5 separate regions of the Homo sapiens genome follow, and regions 1, 3, 4 and 5 are each linked to region 2. The links come from fine-mapping of genetic effects on gene expression. A gene starts in region 2. Each other region holds a variant in brackets. All regions are shown on one strand. Distances are from middle to middle.

Region 1 (5,108 bases), 210 kb after region 2:
TAGGTTGCTGCCTTTAAACATGACCCCCAAGTCCAGACTATTCCTGCCTCAATGCAGCCAACTTAATTACAAGAACAAGGGACATATGACAGTTCAATTATTTGGTGCAATAGCTGATGTTGGACAGAAAGTGAGTTTACACACAATTTATCCATTTGGAGAGCTTAAAAAAATCCACACACCACTATTTTCTTGAACCCAAAACTTGGCTGAAGTTCTAAATTTCTGAAAAGAGCCGTTTTGTGTTTCGGTACAAGATTGTCATCTAAGAGTCAAGAATGTTATTTCAGAGCTGTCAAGTGAGCCGTCAAACCACTGTAACAGCATGTTAACTGAGGATTTTCCAAATGATCAGATAAAAGCCCAAGGGGAGGAGAATCCTCCTTAATATCTAAGTATGTTCCATTTTCACATGCCACAATGTAGCAGAAAGTATGAGGTTAAAATTGAACCTACCACAGGATCTCTGAATATCCTTAGGCTTCAACATTACCAAGAATGGATTTCTCAGTGATTTCCAGAGGAAGACAACACATGTAGAATCATGTACATAAATGATGGTTGAGGATATGTAGACTGACTTTGAGTGATGCCAATCTGTGGTTACCTCTTTTGGATGCTAGACTAGGTCCTGGGCAGACAGAGCATGTTCTTTCAAACTCCTCCTTATCTCCCCTATATCCACCCATATTTTGGAAGGTAGAAGATGGGAAAGCAAAATATGTCTGTTTCATCAGTTATGGATGGAAATTAGATGGACTTCTTTACTTGCCTTGCCTATAGCTACTATATAAGCACCTGCCCTTCCAATGGTCTCCTAAAGTGTTCAGCCTGTAAACTACATGAAATTTTCCACACATACCCTAGTATATGGGAGGAGATTGACACCTCAACTGAAGCTAGATACGATCAGCCATCCTTTGCTGGGCTAGTGACCAGATCCTTTTCTGTTGAAAATTTGAACTAAGAAACACGTTAACAACGGTGAGTCAGTGTTGGGCTCTGGACATGAAAGACAGTGATAAATTAGAGCTGAACCACTTGTGTGTTGGACCTTGTGTGAAGTGTTTAATCAGAGAAAGCCAACTGCTCTGGAAGAATGAAGCAGATGTGTGAAGAGGAACAGAGATGAAGAAGATCAAATGACCAAGAGGTGAAAGGAGTGACCTCAGTCCCTGAGTGTCTGGTTCCTGGCTCTGGGAGCCCAAATCCCTTGATGCCTTGAAATTACATTTTGGGTCTCTACCACAAACCTTCCTAATCTTGCGCTACCTTGAATGGTTTCTATTCTGTGAATCCTTGATCATTGACTGAAACATACAACCAAATGTATTATTCATCCACCAGCTTGTCTGGTTTTGTTTATGTTTTGGGGTCTTCAGAGTTTGGCTTCTGATTGGTAGTCACAGATTAAATTCATTATTGCCAACCCTTTGACCAACTTATCACAGGCTGAGGTGCCTTGCTTCTTTCTGTTCTAGCACTATTTAAGCATAAACATGAGGACACTTTTCTTGTCTGAGGCTAAGCCCAGGAATCAGAGCCTTTCAACCACAATCTTTCTTTCTCTAGCTTCCTTTGATATCTCATTCCCATCTCAGCCTAAGCCAGCAGTTCTCAATCCTGGCTGCATATTAGAATTACATGGAAGGGTTTTTAAAACTACCCATCTTTGGATCCCTCACCCAGAAATTCTGATTCATTTTGTCTGGAGTGGGTATTTTCTAAAGACCCGAAAGAAAACTCAGGGTTGAGAACACTCATCTAAACAATCCCTTTGTCAGTTTAGTGTGTAGTGAAACTCCTGAAATAGTGGATATCTTTTTGGAATAGTTGCAATAAAGAAATTTCAGTGAGAATCCAGCTCTAAATCATTGTGTAATTTCAGGTTTAACACATTCACTACATCTCCTCTGCAGACCTTTAATTTTCCATATACACACAGAACCTCCTTCCTCTCTCAAGATAAAGGCTGGCACATGGTTCTCTCTTGGCCCTGATGAATTCAATAGCCCCATTAGGGAGCACTAAACTCTGGCTCTGGTTCAGGTTGTCCCAACCCTTTATTCTGCTGTAGGTTTCAAGATACCTCAGCATTTGCACCCTTGCTCTGGCTGATCTCACAGCTGCCTCCCAGGTGTGCCCTCTCCTGGCTCAAATCCTTGCAAATCAATTCTGTTTCATAATATCAGGACTGCAGCCAGCCAAGCTGTCCAGAACCTTACAAAACTACGTTGAAAAGACCCACACTGGCAAGAAATTCTGGTCTCTCTGTCTCTTTCTTTCTCTCTCTCTGGGCATCTGCATGCGCATACACACACACACAAACACACACACACACACACACACACACACACGCTCCCTGTTCTTGATTCTTGGGGATAAGCAGTATAGTGTTCAACTGGGAAGTGTAAGTCTATCTGGTGGTATCCAGGTGCTTGTGCTGACATCTCAGGAAGACAGCAAGTGCTTGGTGAGATGTATGAAGCTGTTTATTAAGAAAGATTGTTGCTACAAGAGACAGAAATCACAAAGGGCCACTGAATACACTACATTGTTTGTCCAGATCCATGGTGTTGGATGGAGTGTAATCTT[T/C]TGGGGACACATGCTGAGGAAGATGAATTCTATTAAAAATATCTCCTTTCTTTCTGTTTCTGCTTGTCCCCAGGGGTGCCCCTCATCCTCAGGCATCAGTGCTCTATGGTACCTACTTCTTCAGCATGTCCAGACACATCGGGGATGTTCCTACCTCCCTCATGCCAGGTGGGCAGTCCCCACTCCAAAGGGCTTCTATCCTGGAAGCTCAGCATCAATTAATGTTCCCCACAAATTTAGATAAGGAGCAAAGCACCATTATTATCATCACATGTCCACAGGATGCAGAACACTGCAGGAAAGTTGAGATTTGGGGTTTAATTCACTTAATGAACATTATTTTGCATGAGAAATAAATCATAACATTTAAAGGCATATGTATTTTTTTCATAAAGAGTGAAAATAACTTTATTGAGTTTATGAAGGAATGTATACTATTACAACTTAGAGCACCAACTTTACTGATTATGAGAATGTTAATGAGAAAGTTGTTTCTATTAATTAGTGTATTTGAAAATGAACACAGAGGCAGTCTTCCAACCTGCCATGCCCCCCATTTTCTTTTCTCTCTCTCTCTCTCTTTTTGTGTTTTAATCTGTATTTCCCTGATAACATGTAATGTGGAGCATCCTTTCAGATGCATATGTACCATGAGGATATCTCTTTGGTGAGGTGTCTGTTAAGGTCTCTGGCTCCCCCCACCTTTTTTTTTTTTTTTTTTTTTTGAGAAAGAGAGAGTCTTACTGGGTCACCTAGGCTGGAGTCTCTCTCTCTCTCTCTCTCTTTTTCAAAAAAAAAGGTTCGGGGGTATATGTGAAGGTTTGTGACATGTGTAAACTCCTATCACAGGGTTTGTTGTACAAATTATTTTATCACTCTGGTGTTAAGCCCAGGACTCAATAGTTGTCTTTTCTGCTCCTCCCCTTCCTCCCACCCTGCATCCTCAAATAGACCCTACATGTTCAAAGTGCTTTGAAGCTCCTTCCGTACTATTTCATTTTATTCTTCGAGACAATTACATGGAGTTTGAAGTTATGATCTTTGCAGGTGGGATAACTGAGGTTCAGAGAGGTGAAGTTGTCCACAGTTACACAGGGCACTAGCAGGAGACTTGAGCCTTGATCTGGTTCATTTCACCAGCGTCATACTCACTAAGGGCTGCCATTTGCCAGGGACCATGACAGGTCCTGGAGCTGTTGATGGAAAGAACAGGATGGTCCTCTCCCTCACCCTTCCCTGGCATGGCCATCAGGCCCCCAGTAGCAGGTTTGCCTCTCTTTCTGTCCCTGTCTGGGCCAAGAGGGCAAGTGAGGCCTGATGAACCATGCAAAATGGAGCAGCACTATCATCAACTCTGGCCTCCAGGACACTGGGCATGTGGTCAGGGCTTCCCCATGTGGTAGGAAAGGTGCCTCCCCTTGCCACAGTTCTCAGCTCCCCTCAGTTTCCCTGAAGGGCAGGTGAGCAGGGGCTTGGGGTTGAGTAATTCAAAAAAGGTTCCTCTCCATTTCTAGCATAGACTTTTCCCTACCCCACCTTACCCCAATGTTTCTGCTTTGTATGAAAAGAAAGGCCACCCTTAAACTAGATAGCAAAATTAAGCCAGTTAGGGGCTGCCCAGCACCTGTTTAATCAGACAAATCCATTGTGTTCATGAGACTGACAATCTTGTGGGGAAGCAAAAACAAATATGGATCAAAGTGTGCAACAGTGTGTAGGCAGACTCAAAAACTCATAGAGGATTTACTGTGGATAGATGGATCCAAGATAATGGAGGTTGAATTTTATAACTTCAGTATTACTATGAGCAGCATTTGATAGACTGTTTTCTGTTTGCAAGCTGTTTTTTAAATGTATTGCTTTGAACAATTAAAGAGAATTTTGAAAGAAAATCATTTCCCAATATTCCCATCAGCTAAACAAGATTGCTTCACCCCCACCACCACCCCAAGACTGTAGACTTTTTGAGAGGATGGATCAATTCTAATTAATCTTTCCATTACTATTATCTGGCACAAAGTAGGTGCTAAATAAATGTCTCTTGAATGATTATTTCCAAAATTTATCCACATGTATATATATTTCATGTAGATTTATTGCATAGTGTGCAGTGTACTATACATACAGTTTACAATTCAAATTTTCACTTAGTAATAAATGGCATGTTGTTAATAGTTTTCTTTCCTTTTCTTTCTTTTCTTTTCTTTTTTATAGAGATGGGGTCTCGCTATGTTGCCTAGGCTAGACTCAAACTCCTGGCTCAAGTGTTCTTCCTGCCTCAGCCTCCTGAGTAGCTGGGATTACAAGCATGCCCCACCACACCCAGCTCTTTATTGTCAACCTTTTCTATGTTGCATTGTAATTATGTTTTTATACTTTGCCTAGTCATTGATTCAATAAGCATTTATTGAGTGCTAACTATATGCTATACATCGTGCTAGAAAATGACACCAAAATATTGTCTGTATTCAGAGACAAGTAAACAGATTTTATGAGGACGGTATAATGCATGT
Region 2 (5,108 bases):
ATGAAACAGCAATGTTAGAATCAATTGAATGACTAGCTTCAGGGGCTGAGGAAGAAGGAAGAGAAAAGGATACCTTCTTTGTTCTCGGCTTCAACTAGTGGGTGGATTGTGGGATGACAGATCAAAATAGGAAAAACAGAAGTGGATTTTGAGGGAAAGAAAATAATTTTTCGACACACTGAATTGGAGGTGGCTGAGCGCCAACCTGCAAAAGACAAATGTACAATTACTGTGGGAGATTTTTATATACCTCTCAAGATCGTAAGCTAGCAAGGAGGATAGAACTGGAAATAAAAGGATAGCAAGCATTTAATTAGTGTTCATTGTGTGTGGCACTGTTAAAAGGGCTTTACATCTTTTATGACAATTATTATAATTCTGTTAGATAGGTACTACTGTTATTCCTACTTTACAGATCAGCAAAAATTAGGTACAGAGCATTTAAGTAACTTATCCAAGGTCCCCAGGTGGGTAAGTGCTGGAGGCAGGATTTGAATTACAGTCTTAATTCCAGAGCCTGTGCTAACCATTTCACGGTGTTCACCTTGAGCTAGAAGCAGCACAGCCTGAGGTTGAAGGTATGGGAGAATATGTGGAATGCAAAGAGGACTAAGAGCAGAGTCCTGGGAAACACCAGTATTGAAAAGGGAGAGTAAAATAATTGGAACAGAATGCTGAGTAGAGCCCCATGGAAGCGAAACGGAGAGAAAGTTTCAAGAAAGAGGAACTAATGAACAGTGTCATTTGATGCAGACATTTAAGTCAGATGGCTGAACTTGACAACTGGAAGGCCTGGGACATCACTCACAGACAGTAGTTTCCCAAGAGGATAGGGCCAGACTGCATTGGGTTGAGGAGAAAATGAGACGAAGACAAAAAGAGAGCTCCAAAAAGCTGAGCTGTGAAAGGAGAAGACTCAGGAGGTTACTGGAGGGGCTTAAGTTTGGAAAGTTTTGTTTTGATAGGAAGTTAGGAGGATTCTAAGCATTCTTTCATGACAGATGTCCATTTTTAAAAAGTAAAATTCACATACAGCTTGTTAAAAACCTGTAAAACACTTCTTAAGTCATTAAACTAGACTTGGGGACATGATACAAAGGAATTTTTGGACACCGCCTCCCCTCTTCACATCTTGAGCTGATCACCTACCTCGGGCTCTACTGGGCCTACACTACCAATTGGTAGATGCTCTCATCAGGCTCCAGACACATCAGCTTTTCCTCAGTTCTTCAAACCCACTAGGCTCTTTGCGTTCTCAGGCTTGCCTGTCACCTCTGCCTGGAAACTCTTGCCTTATTAATCAGCTTCCTCCATTGAGATCATGCAGCTGTTTCTCAAATCCAAGGCCTTTTTCTCACTGTATTAACACACACAATCATAAAACATTTACTGCACTCTCACTAGTTGGCTCTGTGCTATATGCTTTATTTGTGTAATTTCACTCAATTTTCACACTCATCTTTTCATGTAGACAGATGTTTTGAAAATGATCTCCACTGTACAGGTGAGGAAAGAAAGGAGGCTGCATAACTTGTCCAAGTTCACACAAGTGGTGGTGCCAGGATTAGAACCTAGTTCTTCAAAAATAAGACAAATCGAGGCCACTGCTCACACAATACTCTAGTTTGGGAAGTCCTGATCTAATTTCACTTATGTTCCGAGATTACACCTGCACTTTCCAGGCTATGTCCCTAATCCACAAATTCAAATTTCATCCCCTCCTTCCACTTGCTTTCTGATGGCGGGAGGCAAGGGCAGAGAGCATCGGAGGGCTATTCCGAACTTCCAATTCTGCCTCTCCCGAGGATGCATGTGGGAAGGAGAAGAAATTCAAACGTTAGCAACTTATCTCTGAGCACTGAGAAAGAGGTAACCCGGTACCTAACAAGCGGCTGGCAGTTCTGGAGCTGAAGCCAACAATTCCCACACTGCATTAGTAGCAAAAGTGCTTACCTTAACTGCCACCTCCGGAGCCGAGTCCACTGCCACTGCTAGAGACGGCTTTGATGAAGGCGATTTAGTCAAGTGCATGAGGGAGTCGGCGGCTGGCAGCGGACACCGACTGCTCTCACTGTCCGAGTCCGATTCGGACCCTGAACCCGAACCATAGGAAGCGGCCAGAGCTGCAATCGCAGCCGACATGACGGCAACAAATCTTCTGCGGAGACCCTGCCAGGGCGGAAGAAGAAGAGGCTCCCAGGTCCTGACAGATTGCAATGGAACACATCATTAACTTTCTTTGCTAAGAAATAATGTCTTACATTTTGAAACAATAAGCTAATTATTATTAGAATAACTACTGTCGAGCTGAGAGCTTAAAAAAGTTTATCTAGGGAAAAAGGGAGAATTATAATAGTTTATAACATTTAGGACCTAGTTGACTAAAGAATATGAGTTCCAAAATACCTTGAGGCCTCGCGGTCCTGCACTCCCAGCGTGCAGCGCGGCAGGAAGCGCGAGAGGGCACAATGGGAAGTGTAGTTTGCAACGAGGGGGCGGAACGGGGGCGTGTCCCCCTTTGACCCCGCCCCCGAATGGATGTTCCATTCAATTGGCTATCATCTTCCCTCATTCCCTAGCCAAGCAGTGTTCTCTTCGTCCCCCTCCCCCAAACTGAGGATTGGGCAATACCACAGAACCTCAGGAAAGGGGGGAAGAGCGAGCTTCGGCCCCACTAATGGGGGAGTGGGCGGAGGCTGGATTTCCCACCTCGGCTGCACCTGGGCACTGGAGGCTGAAGAGGAAAGTGAGAATCTGAAGTTTTGAGACCTCTGACTGGCCAGGAATAGCTCCTGGGGCGGGGGGCAAGGATGGGACCATAGGCGGAAAGAGTCTCGCGGTCCCCCCTGCTTCTGGCGCGGGTCCCTGCGCCCGGTTGTGGAGCGTCTCGCGCGGGGAGGGGGCGGGGGGAACGGCAGCTCGCGGTGTTGTTCACTCGCGCGTCGAGCACACGGTGGGTCCGGCGGCGGGTTGGCGCCCCAGGCGGCGTTCCCTGTGGCCTGGCGCCTGGGCCGCTGCCCTGAGCGGGTTCCGCCCCAGAGCCCGACCCTCCTGGGGGCTCTAGGCGGAGTCCCGCGAGCCGAGGGGGACCGGCGACCGCTGCCGAAGCATGAAGAAGGGGTAAGGCGTGAGCCCCCAAGATTTCACGGTGAGCGCGAGTCCCTGAGGAATTGCTTTTTTCGGGGAGGGGGTGTTGGGAGAGGAACTCTTCCTTACTGGCCGGAGCAGACCGAGTGGTGTGTGGCCCGCAAAGGTGACGGGGATGGATGGGCGCGCCTTCCCCGCCCCGGCCCCCACCCCCATCCGCGGGTTTTCCGAGCGCCCACCGCCCACCCGCCAGCGGGGCTGGGTGCCGAGGGAGACGGCGGCGGGCGCGCCTGGGGCTTGGCTGCAGGGACCGCCCCGGGGCTGCTCTCGCTGGAGAGACTGTGGGTGTCACCTGAGGTGCCACCGCCCGGGCTTCCCTGCCCACCCGCGCCCGCGGTCCGCCCCGTGCCTCTTTCCGGGGGAGGCGGTAGCCCCGGGCGACAGAGAATCCCCTGCTCGCCCTACGTGCGCGAGGCTCGGTAAAGCGAGCTCGTGCGTTTGCGTGTTTGCTCCGCGAGTCGGTGTCTGAAAACATAACGGTAAAGCGAGTGCGGGCATCCTTTTCTTCGTTGGAAGGGGAGGCGAAGCGGTGCTGTCGCTTCTGGTGCCTGTTCATGGGGGCTGCCTTGGGCAGAGTTACGGAGCCGCTCACTCAGCGCTCATGTCGGCAGGACTCGCCCATTGTGCCACCCAGATAATTATTCAACTATGCAGCATCCATTGCACCTTTCCCATTTTTCTTTTCCCCTTGCTACAGCATGCCCCCTAGCTTCGGTACTCTGACACCTTCTCTTGCACTTGCGGATGATGAACTGGAATAACGATGAAAGAAAGCACATCCGATCTCAACATTCACGTCCTGCCCTATAACCGATTAATTAATTGATCCCCAGCTAGACTAGGTACTTAAATACGACTTACTCTAATCATTTCCTTTTCTATGTAATAAGATGTGCGGTGGATTCGACTTAAATTTTTTCTTTGGTGTTAGATTCACGATTAGCTAAGGTCTTTTTTCTGTTCACTAATTGATGTAATTGACTTATTGGTTATTCAATCCGTCTAATGTTCTTAAATTTAAATTTGCATGGTAGGTAACATTCATTTTTCTGATTGTTCATAGCATTATATCATAATTAGAAATGCAGTCTCAATTTGAACTCTCAGGAACAGTTTATCCTTTATGCTCTAAGTTTCTGTTAGGAAACATTTTTGTTTATATTGAATATTTGAATGAAGTATTTGATATAAAATTTCGGAAGTTTTGAATAAGAAAAGTTTTGTATTTGTTTTTCGGTAGCAGAATATGTCATTACTAATCGTTGCCTTCCATTGAATGGAAGGATTTAATATTTAAGATGAGGATTTTAACCATCATATCAGTCATTCCCTAATTTATCTGATTTTATTTTTTATTCACTTTTTTCTTTGCAATATCATGTATTTAATTACTTGTTTTAGAATCCAGTTTTTTTTTTTCTAACTTGAATCTACAAGTATGAGTAGGCTTCAGTTTTGCGTGATCTACCTGAAGGATGAAATTTTTTTTTTTTTGCAAATATAAGAAACCACTGTTGGTTACTTGATTTTTATGTTAAAAACTGTTTACATCTCATTATTTAAAAATAAATGATTCACTATAAAAAGTAAGTGTTGTATTTTTATAATTTTCCTTTTCCATCTTTCCTTGTTTAAGCTTGTTGCATTTACCCTTTTGATAAAAGAGAATCACATAAGCATTGCAGAGGCAGTTTTAAGGTATAGTAATTGTTTTATGGCACTTGGAAGTGGCGTACATATAATATAAGTTGATGGTGTAGGATTAGTTGCTTGGTTAGGAAATGACCTTGCAATTTACAAAATGGACACCTTTGTGCCTTGGTTTCCTTATATGTAAATGGAGATAATATTTAGTAGGTAGTGTGCATAAATTCAGGAAAGGTGTGTTTTTGTAGTCCTTTTAAAGAAAATTTAAATCTTTTAGCTGATGAATGATTAAAAAATTTCTGTGAAAAATACAA
Region 3 (5,108 bases), 67 kb after region 2:
GGAATAGGACACTCTCATCTGCATTAAAACTCTGTTCAGGCAGATATTGTTTCTACTCAATTTTTTTCTTTTTCTTTTCTGTTTTGTTTTTTTTTTTTTCTTTGAGAGAGAGAGAGAAGGTCTCACTTTGTCACCCAGGCTGGGCTGGAGTACAGTGGCATGATCACGACTCACAATAGCCTCGACCTCCTAGGCTCAAGTGATCCTCCTGCCTCACCTCCCCAAGTAGCTGGGACTACAGGCACATACCATCGTGCCCAGCTAATTTCTGTATTTTTGGTTGAGACGGGGTTTCACCATGTTGTTCAGGCTGGTCTCAAACTCCTGAGCTCAAGCAGTCTGCCCACCTCAGCCTTTCAAAGTGCTAGGATTACAGACTGTCATGCCTGGCCAATTTTTTTTTTTTTTTCAAGCAGCATACATGGAAACTAATTATTTTCTTAATGGCATCTGGGAACTCATCTGCTGCCTCTTGGCTGACAAAAGCTGCAGCTTCTCTTGTGACATTTTTGAGGCCAAACCTCTTCCTGAAAGTATCAAAGCATCCTTTACTGCCATTAAATTTTCCAGGTTTAGATCCTTTGCCTTCCTTTTGCTTTAAGTTGTCATATATGGACTTCACTTTTTCTCAAATCATGTTAGAGTCTGTATGTATGCTTTCTTGTAACAGCCATGCACCCACAAAAATTGCATTTTGATACAAGATTAAAAGGTATTCGCAAAAAGTACAAGGTTTTTGTGTCTGCTGGTGTATCTGCAGCAATGGCTTCATGATTTTCCTTTTCTTTTTTTATAATTGCCCTTAAGTTTGATTCATTTATCTTGAAATGCTAAGCAACCACAGCTGTAGACCTCAATCTGGGGTTCATATCAAGCAATTCAACTTTATCTTGTAGTGTTATGACTTTCTTGTACTTGAGAGTACTTCCAGCATCACTGGTGGCACTTTGAATGAGTCTCACAATGTATTCAAGGTTTACAGTATTGCATAAAACATGATGGAAAATACACAAGAACCATGAGAGATTACTTCCTACTCTTATATGCAATTTAGTGGAGAGAGAACTGCTCAAACAGCATTTTAAGTGGATAGTAACAACACTAGAGCTAACTGCAGTATCAACAGAGGGTGGCTATAAAATTGTTACAGTAATACAGTATTACACTTAAATTTATTGTTATGATTTAGTACTATTAGGTTGGCAAAAACTGCAATTACATTTGCACCAACCTAATATATCTTTCCATTTCTTTATATTTCTCTTGACTGTGAATGGCACTATGTATGTTTTTGTTTTGTGTGTAAATTTTGATAAATTTTAACTTTTTATAATTTCTGTATATTTTGTGGTAGTAAATGATAAAATAGTCTAGTATTTACATAGATTTTATGCATTCATATCTTTAAAATATACTTTAAAATTTTTAGTATTTTTAGGCTATGTGGTTCATCTGCAAGTTTTTTCAAATTGTCTCAAATCTCCAAAATTTTCAATGTATTTATTGAAAAAAATCCACATGTAAGTGGACTATTACAGTTAAACGATTTTGTTCAAGGGTCAACTGTAATTCCAAATAAATTCCAAATTCAACAGGTCACCAGTTGTAATATTACATTGTTCATTATTTATCTCTGATCACAAAGTATCTGAGGGCAAATATCATGCTAGATTTCTACTGCTTGCAAAGATAAAAACTCAGTGCTCTGGATGTTAAATTTTATGATATATGTGTCATTTTTGCTTAGGTAAATATGCTGAAGATATATTTGGAGAATTATTCAATGAAGCACATAGTTTTTCCTTCAGAGTCAACTCATTGCAAGAACGTGTGGACCGTTTATCTGTTAGTGTTACACAGCTTGATCCAAAGGAAGAAGAATGTAAGCTTATTAATATTGTATTTTCTTCTACGTATATATTTTAAGTTAGATGAGATGAATGATATACTTAACAGTATTAATCATGAATTTATTACAGATCATACCCATGTCCTTTGGTGTACATATTGTAATAAATCAGTGAATTATCTAAAAATGCCATCAGTATGATTCTCCGGGCTTTTCTTTTCTACTCTGTTTTAAATCTCTTCTTTTTGTACACTAAACAGCTCCTAATTTTTTTGCATAAAGAAGTCATTTTAACCAGACATTTTCCTCCATTCTCTTCATTATCTTTCTCTTTTCATTTCTCCCTTATAATTTATTTGTATACTTTTGTCTTAGAAATAAAAATTATTAGAAAATTACCTGAAATCTTTAGGTTTGATTCTACAAGAATGTAACTGGTTTTTTTTTTGTTTTTTTTTTTTTTT[G/TTG]AGACAGACACTCTGTCACTAGGCTGGAGTGCAGTGGCGCAATCTCGGCTCACTGCAACCTCCACCTCCCAGGTTCAAGCAATTCTCCTGCCTCAGCCTCCTGAGTAGCTGGGATTACAGGTGTCTGCCACCACGCCTGGCTAATTTTTTTATTTTTAGTAGAGATGGGGTTTCACCATGTTGGTCCGGCTGGTCTCGAACTCCTGACCTTGTGATCTGCCCACCTCGGCCTCCCAAAGTGTTGGGATTATAGGCATGAGCCACTACACCTGGCTATGTAACTGCTTTTAATATGCTTTTGTATGTGCATATTGCTAAAGTCTTATTAGTTATTTAACTGAATGCAACTTCCTACTTTAAATGAACATTTCAAAAACAAATTGCCAGTATGTAGGGTGTAAACATTCTATACCAAGATATTAAATCAGGAATAATCAGATAGGCTAAAATAATTGTAGAAACTTCGGTGGTAAAATCATGTTTTATGCCTTGATAGAATACATTGAATGCCGACGTTTCCCAAATGCATCTTTTTGTTTGTTTCACAAAAAGAAATGCAATACTAAGAACATAATTTGCACTTACCTACCACAGAGAATTGTTTAATGGAATTTCTTACACTCTCTTCAAAATATTTTTGTTGCATTAAATAGTATAAACACAAATTATATGATAGATCTAATTTTTAGTATAAATGCAAATTATATAATAGATCTAAACTTTAACAATAAAAATACTAAAGGATGTCAGTGGAAAGAACAAAAATATAATGTAATGATAGATGTCTTAGTGATGGAACCAGCTACTTTTGAAATAATCCAATGTGTAAATAAGGAGAGGCAAATACTTGGCATACTAGATTTGTACCACTTGTAAAATGTAAACTCAGAGCTCTGGATACAAGAAGAAAAGGAAATAATACTTAAAAAATAGCTTTATTAAGATATATTTCACAACCTACGTATACCTTGCAGTTCACCCATTTAAAGTTGAAGTGTACAATTCAGTGTTTTTTAGTATATTCAAGTTATGCAACCGTCACCACAATCAATTTTAGAGTATTTGTATCACTCCAGAAAGAAGCCCTGTACTCATTAGCAGTCACTCTGTTTCCCCTTCAGCTCAACCCCTAGCAATCACTGATCTTTCTGTCTGTATGGATTTGCCTCTATGGATTTGTCTGTATGGATCTGTCTGTATGGATATTTCATATGAATGAATAGTACAGTATGTGGTCTTTTGTGACTGGCTTCTTTTAGCATAATGTTTTCAAGGTTCATTCATATAGCATGTATTTATATCTCCCTGATGGCTAATGATGTTGAGTATGTTTTCATGTGCTTACAGGCCATTTGAATATCTCCTTTGGAGAAATGTCTATTTAATTCCTTAGCCCATTTATAATTTGTATTATTCGTGTTTTTATTTTTGACTTGTTGGAATTCTGTGTATATTCTGGATCTAAATCCTTTATCAAATATATGATTTGCAAATATTTTCTCCCCTTCTTTAGGTTGTCTTTCTTGGTGGTATCCTTTGAAACATGTGCATGTATCAATACATTAATTACACCTCATGGAATTCTTGAAATAAAATCATTGTTAGTGGTGAAAAATATTTTATGGTCATGCTTTCAAATACATAATTTATAGCCAAAATTTGTTTTTCAGATAACTCAACTGCTTATCACTTAAATATAAATTTATGCCATCAAATAATAGAGAAATACACAGGCAGTTCTCATATGTAACAGAAATAAAAATCAACATTTAGTTTCAAAATATTGTTACATTTTAACAAATGTCTTAGAGCCACCATTAAACTTGAAAGTGAAAATACAGATAACAGTAAATAAATTAAGATGTTTGTGTTAAAAAACAAATTTTAATATGTCAACAGCTATACTGTCAGAATTATACCTAGTTTCCTTTAAAATTTTGTGGAGCAGTGGGGGAAGAATTCAGAATCTAAAAGCTGAACTACTTAATTTGAAATTGTTTTGGAGAGGTTGTATTGAAGGAGTTTTCAGTTATTTAACCTAGGTTTTTTAATTCAGTGGGAATTAAAAAAAAAACATCATGTGTACAGTACTAAATAGCACAGTGTGGTATCAGTTTTTTTAACCGTTTTGTAGTAACTAAAAACTATCAATTTTGAAAATATTTTTTAAATGAATTTTAAACAAAGACTTGTACAATTATATTTAAGTCAATTATGTTTATAAGCATTATGCTAATTTATTGCTTTATAATTCTATTTTATTAATATCAGATGTTATTGTTGGCAAGTGGAAGGAGCTTCACCACAATAGTCTGTTAATAATAAGACAAACGATAAATGAGAGGAGTTGAAGATAGAAAAGTACATCATGCTTATTAGTTTACATGTTTCTTACATCCTTTACCAAGGAAGTTTGGCGAGATTAAACACTAGGTTTCATCTTAATTACATACTTATTGATTAATAAGTGGGGCAGGAGAGTGGCAAGAATTGATCCACTTTGACTGCAGAAAACACAACCCACTTCTGGCAGGAGCCTGAGAACAGCGTGTGGTATTGTGGCAAAAAGATTAGCCTCAAAGGTAGACAGATCTGACTTTTCTGTTCTGGCTCTGCTGTTTATTAACTGTTTAACCTCAGGTCAGTTATATACTATTTCCTAGCCTTAGCTTTCTTATATTTCACAATGGAGTAATAATTCCTGTCTTACTGAATTGTAAAGATTAAATGAAATGAAATTTAGTGAAACCATCTAGCACATATAGTATGTACTCATTAAATACTGTATCTCCAGT
Region 4 (5,108 bases), 1.0 Mb after region 2:
TATGTAGGTAGGCAAGGTACTAACCTCATTTTTCAAATAAAGAAACCAAAATTGAGAGAAATTATGACTTGCATGGTTCCATGATCTTTCCATCTCATCACACAATCTGATTTGCTTCAGACACCTAATGGTTTTAAATACTAATTAAAAAACATATGAAATGCTGGTTCTTCAGAATTGTCTTTGGAATGAAGTACTAATTCACCTGCTTACTGCATCTTCTGACCTCTCCAAACCTCTCACCATCCACATTGTGTTTTCTCAATGATTCAACCTAACAGGGTTCTTATATTGCTCCTTTTGATCAGTTGTGGCAGTATCAGAAACAGGGATATGAAGGTCCTGGGTCCATGAGACTTGCCATTAGGGGCTGATCTGTGTCTCTTGTTTCTCTACAATAACTTGATTGCTGTTGTTGGCAGCACTTACCTATAGAAGAGCTCCTAATGAAACAGGCTGGCTGGCTTCCTGTTGTGATCTGCTCTAGAGGAGAACAGAAGCCCCTACTCAAGCCCTAGCTTACCTAACTCTCAGCAAATCAGTAACAAAAGACCCAAGGAGTTATTAACAGCAAGTTCCTACTTTGGGGGGATAGAGACTTCCACAAAGCCCCACAGGTGCAGTTAGAACTAAAACTCAACCTATAGTTACCCCTTCCTCATTTTTGTGCTAAGAATAATGCCTTGGGTGGAGATTTAAAATGCTAATGCTACATTTGATGTATGAAGAAGCATGTTGAGCCACTGTATGAGCACTAGAAACCACACCCCCCGCACCCCGCCATATGTGCCCTGATGTAACCCTTCTCTATCAAAGGATGCTATAAAACTAACGCACACACTACCCTTGGAGAGCATCTCTTTCCTTTTCCTTTCTTGGTGCTGGCTCCCTTGTGCACAACCTGAATACACTTACCTTTGCTGCTGCTCTGTTTGGTGATCTCTCTTGATTTCTATCCTGGGAGACAGCAAGAATCCAGAGTGCTGATAACACTCACAGAACATTGTTTTGCATAATGTATTACTAAGTGCCTACCATTATTTCAGCTTTTAAATTTCTCACCAACATCAAAGTCAAATTCAATTAAAATATTATTGGGTAAAATGAGATCTCCTTTCATTGAGTATGATTTGTATTATAGCTCCTGTAACTTCAAGACAATAGCATTAATTAACATGTAAAAACACTTACATTTTCCTTGGTAAGACTTTTGCTTGGATCTGTCTTAACAAATCTAGAATATAGAAAAATCTTAGAGGTAGCAATCAGGTTAGAAATGGGTACCTGAAACTGCTATTATATACTATTTATCTGAACTGGAGATAATGCCAATTGTCTATGTAAAAAGAAGAGAGGGTGCTGATGTAGATTACGGAGTGAGAGTGGGGAGTAAAGCCCCTGAAGATCACACCTTCTCAGTGCCACTATTTACCTGTAAACTCGATTAGCTGTTCCCTGAAGAGCTCCCTGCTCTTCTATCTCAGACTTCAGTTCAGTCAGTTGCACAGCCAGTTTTTTCTCCAACAGCTGGACCCTTTCTGTGGAAGTGATCTTATAAATTTCATCCATGATTTGTATTTGCTGTTTTTCTGTATCCCTGAAAAAGAGGATCACAAATCTTGATGCCCTCAGTGACCATTATCCAGCATGTTGAACTTTGTCTATCTTTGTCCAAGAAATCATGTCAACTTTGTAGAAATGCATGCATTTTGCTATTAGACTGTTGTCATTTGTGATTTAATTAACATCTAGTAAACAGTAGAGAAAAAGTAGGTTAGAATCTCCACTGGCCATGCCTTTGATTAGCCCAGTTCACCTTCAAAAACATCTCTGCTTCAGCTTTGGCTGTGGGGTTTAATAAGTGAGAATGCACCCCCCACCACCCCTCACCTCTGCAGTCTTGATAAATGTTTGTGGGGATTACACAGTAACTTCTGTGAATGGCAGTTATTGCTGACTTCTAATAGAAAATTGTACTTCCGCATTTGAATGTGTTTTCTTAATTTTGACTGCCTACATTTAGCATACCGGTTTTACCATTAAATAACAGCTGATAACCTCCCACCCCACCTCACCTGGTTCACAGTCTGTCAAATTCAACATAATTGTTTGTTAAGTACTTAGTATCAACATTCTAATTAACAATGTAGATTAACTGCATGACTCAGAAGTCCTGGGACCCATAAGTTGCAGGGGATTCAACAGATGATGTATTTCCTTGTGTTACTGCTGCCCTCACCTGTCCTGGACAAGTATGAGTTAAGTCTCTCTTAGGCCACATTAGAGAGATTTAAAATACTTAAACCTTATTTTTTTCCTGTGATATTTCTAGACTCTCATCTTTCCTTTTGAGATATTTCATTTTCTCAAGTTAATATGCTGTCATTTCAACAAATAATTAAGCTGTAGAGATGTTTTGTGTAGAGGCTTCCTTTGGGAGCCCATTTATTCTTTTTCTAAATATATGAAAAATGGAAATGAGCATCCATGTTCAGTCCAGGTTGTGAACCTGCCTAGTAATAAATCTGTCGTGTTTGGCACGCCATTGGAGCTCAATAAAATGCACTGTTATTGTTCTTAGCAAAAGTAAAATGTTGTTATAGAAAATATTTGCCATTTGGCAGTGTCCTTTCAAGTTGG[G/A]CAAACAGTTAAACAGCTGCCTTAACAGCTGCATTCCAATCGGCAGCCAAGAGTGGCAGCAACATAGACTGGCTGATTATTCTCCCAAAGGACGGACATTCTGCCTTCATTTCTTGATCAGTTTCAACACTTCACAGCTCAGAAATGAGAACATTTAATCCTGTACTGTTTAGCTTGCAACACAGTCAAGCACAGTATTCAGAAAATTAACATAAAGGGGTCAGTCTTTGACAACTGTCCATGAAATGAATCCAACCCAGAGAAATACATGCCTGCTGAGCACTCATGTCTAGGTTTAAAGAGACAACTGTTTATTTGGAGGGGTATGGGAGGTGTGCTTCATTTATTGAGAACCTACCGTGTGTCAGGCAAGCACTGGGAACTCATTTAGTCTTAGAAAAGAGATTGCGAGAAAAGAGAATTTCTTCAATCATGTTTTTAAAAATAAGTACATTTAATTATTTGTAATTCATAATTATGTATAATACATAATTTTTATGCATTTAAAACGTGGTTAAAATTTAAGACAAAAATAGTAAGATCAGCTTGAGCAAGGTTTGGGGGTGTTCAATGTGTGGTTACAGCAGGCTTGGATGGGGATAAAGCAGACACGTTTAGAAAAGAAATACTGAGTAACTATTTTAAAAGTTTCAAGGTGATGAGTAAAAGAATAGAAATGCATCTAGATGAGTTCATGTCATTTGTAGGGACATGGATGAAGCTAGAAACCGTCATTCTGAGCAAACTATCGCAAGGACAGAAAACCAAACACTGCATGTTCTCACTCGTAGGTGGGAATTGAACAATGAGAACACTTGGACACAGGGTGGGGAACTTCACACACCAGGGCCTGTCATAGGATGAGGGGAGTGGGGAGGGATAGCATTAGGAGATATACCTAATGTAAATGATGAGCTAATGGGTGCAGCACACCAACATGGCACATGTATACATATGTAACAAACCTGCACGTTGTGCACATGTACCCTAGAACTTAAAGTATAATAAAAAATAGGAAAAAATAAAAATAAAATAAAAATATCCGTACCTATTAAAAAAAAAAAAAGAAATGTATCCTAGAGCTTCCCAAAGAAGTGGGAGTAAGGGGTGAGATAGGACTTTTAAATCCAATAAACGGTGGTCCCCAACCTTTTTGGCAACAGGGATTGGTTTCATGGAAGACAATTTTTCCATGGATGGGAAGCAGCAGGTGGCCAGGCAGAGGGATGGTTTCAGGATGAAACTGCTCCACCTCAGATCATCAAGCATTAGCTAGATTCTCACAAGGAGCACGCAACCTAGATCCCTCACATGAACCATTCACAATAGGGTTCATGCTCCTATGAGACTCCAAATGCTGCTACTGATCTGACCAGAGGAAGCTCAGGTGGTAATGCTTGCTTGCCTGTGCTCACCTCCTGCTGTGTGGCCCAGTTCCTAACAGGCCACTGATGAGTACTGGTCCATGGCCTGGGGACTGGGGACCCCTGCAATAGAAGGTAAGAAAAGTGGTGGTGGGGGGGAACAAAAAGAAGTATGGCAGAATTAAGTTCAAATGTAACAGTAATTATAATAAATGTAAATAGTTAAGCTCATCAAAATACATAAATCAGCACAGCTTCAAGTGTTTTAAAGGCTCCCAAAACTTGATAATGTGATATGTACCAAAATAAAACAATTATTTTTATTCTAGCAAATGCCAGAATTTAAACTGATAAGCATACTGGTCCCATATCACTGTGGGCTAATCCAATTCTCTTTATTGATCTGCACAGATAGATACTCTGTAACCTTGTTGGGTAAACATTTTTGATACGTAGTCATCTTGATCATCAAATGCTTTCAAATCATCTATGCTTTCAAATGAAATACATTACATGCCAGCTTCTGCATTAGTAGGGGTGTGGCTAAGCCATTGTAACAAAAAGACACCATCACCAGTGGCTAAAAGAACAAACTCATGCCTATAATCCCAGCACTTTGGGAGGCTGAGGTGGGTGGATCACTTGAGGCCAGGAGTTCGAGACCAGCCTGGCCAACATGGTGAAACCCCACCTCTACTAAAAATACAAAAACTAGCCAGGCATGGTGGCATACACCTGTGATCCCAGCTACTTAGGAGGCTGAGGCAGAATGGCTTGAACCCAGGAGGCTGAGGTTGCAGTGAGCACCACTCTACTCCAGTTTGGGTGACAGAGTGAGGCTCTGTCTCCAATCAATCAATCAATCAATCAATCAAAGAAAAAAGATCTTTTAAATCTCTCTAACCTAATGGTGCTAATGTAAATGGTCTGGGGTTGTAGAGCAGCCCCACTACTAAATGGGCACTCAACGGCCCGGGTTCCTTCCAAGTCTGCTTCATCATCCCCTAGGCATTGTTCAGATAAACACATTAGTGTTTTCCCTTCATTGTGTCTATAGAACATAGGGGACATGAGATAAATATATTTGATAGTCTGAGTTGAATA
Region 5 (5,108 bases), 210 kb before region 2:
CAGTTTGTTAAGAAGTATTGGGGAGGAGGGGAATGTGTCTCACAATAAAATGAGTTGGAATTGTTGAGTTAAATGAATTTAACCTGTTTTTTGACTCAGGCCTACTCAGAGCCTCTAATGTGTGCACGTGTATTGTGAATCCTCTAGAGAGCTTGGGTGGACGGAAAATGAAGTGCTGGTATTGAAGTAAAGAGGCTTGAGGAGGCTGGGCACGGTGGCTCACGCCTGCAATCCCAGTACTTTGGTGCAATCCCAGCACTTTGGGAGGCTGAGGTAGGTGGATCACTTGAGTTCAGGAGTTCAAGACAAGCCTGGCCAACATGGTGAAAGCTCGTCTCTATAAAAATACAAAAATTAGCTGGGCATGATGGTGGGTGCCTGTAATCTCAGCTACTCGGGAAGCTACTTGAACCCGGGAGACGGAGGTTGCAGTGAGCTGAGATCGCACCATTACACTCCAGCCTGGGTGACAGAGCAAGACTCCGTCTCAAAAAAAAAAAAAAAAGGCTTGAGGAGAAATGGATTTAATTTTAATATTTGGGGAAGACGACTTCTGTTAAATGATACAGTAAGTTATATTTTGGACATCCTGAGTGAGATACAGGGTTGCCAATGAAAGTGTGGGAAAGAGAAAGCTCTTAGCACAGCTACAGCTTTACTGTTGCGTTCATTCAGAACTTGCATATGATTTTGTTTGCAGAGAACATTCTGCTGGTAGACAGTGAGAGAAGCCCACCAGTGTTTTATGCAGTCATAATCATTCCTTGCAGTATTAACATTCTCAAGTAAAATCAAGTGTGGGCTCTTTTCTATAGATTTCCACCAGGGGGTGGTGTTGTATCAGATTCAGATACATTGGTACATTCAAAAATTTAGAAATGACTAGAAATGAAAGATGGATACCAGGTATATAGAGTGTGCGTGCTTCTTTTGAGGTTTTGGAGTTTATATACTCCAAGTGCAACTCTTCTGAATTCTGTTTTAAGTATTTGAGAAATGTATAAGTTTAGACAGACTGGAAACACATATGCATCATACATAATCTGTGAGAAATAAAAGGTTATGATAAAACAGCATTTTTTAAAGGAGGAAATAATTTTTTAATAGTTAAAAATAAAAATGAAGGCCACTGTTCAGAATAGGTAGAATTTCAGTCATTTCGAAGCAGCTTTAAGTGTACTCCTTTGTTCACTATGCCTGTGGTTCAGATCCTGTGGCATTTTTATTGTGTGTTGTGGGCTCACCTTCTATGACCTTTGCCTATTTGTTACTCTAGTTCAGCTTCACTCTGCGTTTTATATTTCTAAAGTGCAATGCTACAAGAGTGCAAGACTGGAGGCTTCTTGAGAAAGTGGTTGTGGCTGCATGCCCTGATTTCATTTTCACTAATTGCTAAATATTGTTCCCAGTGTCTCTGAAACATTATTCATTTTGGTCAGTAGCTGCCAACCTGGGCTGCAACTTAGAATCACCTGGGAAGTTTTTAAACAATGTTGATGCCCAGGCCTGCTTTATGAAATTAGAATCTTTGGTGGGTGGGGCGGAGCTGCTGCATCAGTGTTTACTTAAAGCTGTCCACAAAGTTCTGAGAGCCAGGGCTGAGAACCACTGAGCACTACTTCCCTCCCCTCCTTCTAGGCCCCCACTGCTAGCGTCACCATTATCCTTCCCTTCCTTCCTCGCCATCTTGGGGCATCGAGCTCAGAGGGATGTGCTCACTTAGGCAAGTGTGTCCTTAGGCACTTCTGGGCAAGGTGGCCTAGAGGAATTAGCTGTCCCAAAATAGCTCTCTAGAAATACTGGAATCACCTTGCTGGCTATCAGTCAGCTGCTCCAAGACAGCTATCTGTCTTTATCTGAAAGACAACAGACTGAATGTACAAATGGACAATGGCTAGACCACATATAAAAATAGAACTCTGGCCCACAAGCTGCAGCAACCTGCCCAGGAAACCAATTCCCTTATCTACAATAAACAACACAGGAAGCCAGCCTGCTACACAAGTATATCAGACTTGCAGGAAGCCATATTGC[C/T]ATCTCTAGAAATAATCCAGAAAGATAAACAATAACTTCTGTAACAATTCACACAAAATGGCCAGGACTTGATTAATAATTGACAGCATCCCTAATTTTTGCCCCCACCTCTAACTTAGAACAAATCAGAGAAAAAAAATATGCTTGCCCCCACTTCTAACTTAGGACCAACCATATAGGATGCTTTGCTTCTAGTTAACTTGCCTACAGTGTCCCCATGCCTATCAGGACATATGTGAAGTCTTCTCTTTTTTCTGTTGTGAAGCTTTCTCACCCCTCTGCCTACCTTTGAATCTCTGCCAAATGTAAGTGTGATGGGCTGACTCCCTTGCTATAGTAAAATCTAAAGAAATAGCCTTTGCATTTCTCATTTGACTGGTATATTAGTCAGGGTTCTCCAGATAAACAGAACCAGTGGGACATATGTAGACATATAGAAAGAAATTTCTTATGAGTGTTGGCTCACACAATTATGGAGGCTGAGAAATCCCATGATCTGCTGTCTGTAAGCTGGAGGCCCAGGAGAGCTGATGCAGTTCTAGTCCAAGCCTGAATGCCCGAAACCCAGAGGAGCCAGTGGAGTAAGTCTGAAGGCCACAGTGCTGAAATCCAGGGACAGGAGAAGACAGATGTCCTAGCTCAAGCAGAGAGCAAATTTGTCCTTCCTCACCTTTTTCTTCTATTCAGGCCTTCAACAGATTGGATGATGTCCACTCACATTGGTGAAGATAATCTTCTTTACTTAGCTTACTGATTCAAATGCTTATCTCTCCCAAAGATATCCTCATATATACACCCAGAAATAATGTGTTGCCAGCTAGCTAGGCACCCTTAGCTCAGTCCATTTGACACATAAAATTAACCATCACAGCTTATCTTCATTTACTTCAAAGATTTCAATGTTTATATAAGTTGAGGTCTTCCTGGGTAATCGGTGCTACTGCCTGAGAATAGACTGCTTTATTTTTTCTTTCTTGTTTTCTATTTCAGAACATCTTTTATTTTTTTCTGAACATGAAGAACAACTGATTTCCTTCTTAAATCTCTGCTTTCAAGTGTCTGGCCTTTGTGGCTGAGTGTCTGCCTGCTGTGTCTGTGACCCAGAGGAACGAGGCTGCTTTGAGCCCTGTCATTGCCAGCGTGTGCTTCTTCAGCAGGCAAAGGTTATGCACAAAGTTTTAGGATTTTTTTTTTAACTTTTGGGATTTTATTTGCTTAGGAAGAAAAAAAAAAGTTTAACAGAAAGGCCATAGCCCAGGTGGACACAGTTGTATAGAAGAAAGGCTATTTTTAAAAATGACATATATTCTTCCTTTTATTGAATAATGCATTCAAATCAACTGATATTTGAACCGGTTTTTCTCAATCAATTAAAAGCTTTTAGAAAAAAGGAAGAAAAGGATGGTGGAACATGTGTCCACTGGGAGTTGTAGTTCTTAGAAACCTGTTTCAGGACTTTCGTAACTTGTCAAATATTTGAAATAAATGTAGCATTTTTTTTATTTCTCTCGTTTTTCTTCTTAAGGGTGTGAATGATGGAGACACATTTGAAACCTGCTTCCTCAGGATATCATTCACTCAAGAAAAGCCAATTGAGATCTTTAAGTGGTCCCTTTCTTCTTGAAAAATCTCAGCAGTTTGCCACAAGGCCTGGGGGTTTTATTATTCTAAGTAACTTTGCTGCCAATAAATCACAGCCCTAAGTAGCCAAAGGGAATGCATTAGCCAGATCTCTTATAAATATAACCAATGCTTCTTCAATTATTAGCAGAACAATTGACTTCCATCTACTCAAGGCACCTGTCAACCTGGCCTGCAGCCATGATTCCCACAATTCCACCTCCCAGAGCCTGTTCCCCTTGAATTATAATTTTTTTTATACTGGTGCACATTCTATGGTATGAGCCCAGGACCCAATTTTTCATGTATCCCGGTATTTCTCTTCCTTGCAGATCCAAGTCGTCTGTCAATGGAACTCAACCAGTGTGGTTGAAACTCCACATGGTCTTTTTGCTCTGCCCAGGACTCCTTTCCTGGGAAATCTGCTCAGACCTGGAAGATTCACTGTGTGGGCAGTATCCCTCAGGCCCTACCTCTCTGGTTACAGCTTATTGGAGCAGAGGAAACTGTCAGGTTTAGGCCCCATTGCAGGTAACAGAAACCCCCTAAATATTTGCTTAAACAAGGTGGTCATGTATTTCACTCACATAAAAGAAGCCTAGATACAGGCAGTTTAGGGCTGTTGTGAGGTCTCCAATGGTCATCAGTGATCCAGGCTCCTTCCAGCTCATACTATGCTATTTCAAGGGTGTGGCCCTTGTGCTCACATCCAAGATGGCAGTCAGAGCTCCAGCACATCATTATATCCACTCTCCAAGGACAGTTCCCAGAAGGTTCACATAACACCTTTGCTTGTATTTCACTTCATAGGATTTAGCCTCAGGGTTACACTGAGATTCAAGGGAAGCCGGGAATGTAGTCTTTTGTCTTGGTGGCAATGTAAAAGTCAAGGTTTTAGTAGGCTCTGCAAAAGTATCAAACTATAAATTGAGTTAGGTCAGTGTTTGGGCTCTGAAACTGAAACCCCAGAATATGGCACATTGACATGCTGAACTGAAGAAGTCTCAAGGTCTGTCTGACCTTCTCTACCCCAATCCTGTCTCTCCCAAAGTACAGGATGCAGCTGTTCTCTGAAGTTCCATTATCTGCCTGAAGTCCAAACCACCAAAGAAAAAAATCAGTTACCTCTGGTACCTTCCCTGAGTTTTCATGAACTGAACTCATATGACAGGAAGAAAGACTGAAGTCTGTCAACACACCTGGACAGACTTCTGTCCCAAACCATTGTCTGCTAAGCAGACCCAACCAACTTTGTCCCAGGCCATTATATGTTCTTTAAACCCACTGAATTCCCCTAAAAATCATTTACAACTCCCCTAAAATCATCCACACTTCCCCATCTTCCTTTCCCCTAAGAAGAAGGGTATAGAACCATCTGTACCCCATTGGATCATGGGGACTCACTCTAATTCACCCTTGTGCATGTTAAGAAATTTGTATGCCTTTTCTCCTAT

Alleles and levels. Positions count from the first base shown, and alleles are read on the strand shown. Sizes are in standard deviations (SD) of each study's normalised expression. Not every link is listed here.
As copies of G replace A in region 4, the expression in synovium of the gene that starts at base 2,917 in region 2 goes down (moderate effect, 0.75 SD a copy in Steinberg 2020).

Evidence for each region.
Region 1: its variant is fine-mapped to the expression of WASF1 in spleen (GTEx, PIP 0.97).
Region 3: its variant is fine-mapped to the expression of WASF1 in whole blood (INTERVAL, PIP above 0.99).
Region 4: its variant is fine-mapped to the expression of WASF1 in synovium (Steinberg 2020, PIP 0.95).
Region 5: its variant is fine-mapped to the expression of WASF1 in pancreas (GTEx, PIP above 0.99).

The regions. Positions count from the first base shown.
Region 1 is chr6:109,971,586-109,976,693 of GRCh38, reverse strand. No RefSeq gene overlaps it. Among named protein-coding and RNA genes, the nearest start is that of GPR6, 4.2 kb to the left of the region's middle. The variant T/C (reference allele first, on the strand shown) is at 2,596.
Region 2 is chr6:110,177,479-110,182,586 of GRCh38, reverse strand. It overlaps WASF1 (WASP family member 1), which reads left to right and starts at 2,917. Exons shown (of 11, transcript NM_003931.3): 1 at 2,917-3,148; 2 at 3,845-3,989. CDC40 (cell division cycle 40) reads right to left here and starts at 2,160. Exons shown (of 15, transcript NM_015891.3): 1 at 1,954-2,160. The coding sequence starts at 2,142. RefSeq lists silencers at 2,888-2,997, 3,238-3,557.
Region 3 is chr6:110,110,100-110,115,207 of GRCh38, reverse strand. It overlaps WASF1 (WASP family member 1), which reads left to right. Exons shown (of 11, transcript NM_003931.3): 5 at 1,748-1,882. Among named protein-coding and RNA genes, the nearest start is that of WASF1, 67 kb to the left of the region's middle. The variant G/TTG (reference allele first, on the strand shown) is at 2,314.
Region 4 is chr6:109,180,416-109,185,523 of GRCh38, reverse strand. It overlaps the pseudogene CCDC162P. Among named protein-coding and RNA genes, the nearest start is that of CEP57L1, 87 kb to the right of the region's middle. The variant G/A (reference allele first, on the strand shown) is at 2,641.
Region 5 is chr6:110,386,749-110,391,856 of GRCh38, reverse strand. DDO (D-aspartate oxidase) reads left to right here. Exons shown (of 5, transcript NM_001372108.2): 5 at 1-73. Among named protein-coding and RNA genes, the nearest start is that of DDO, 26 kb to the left of the region's middle. The variant C/T (reference allele first, on the strand shown) is at 2,035.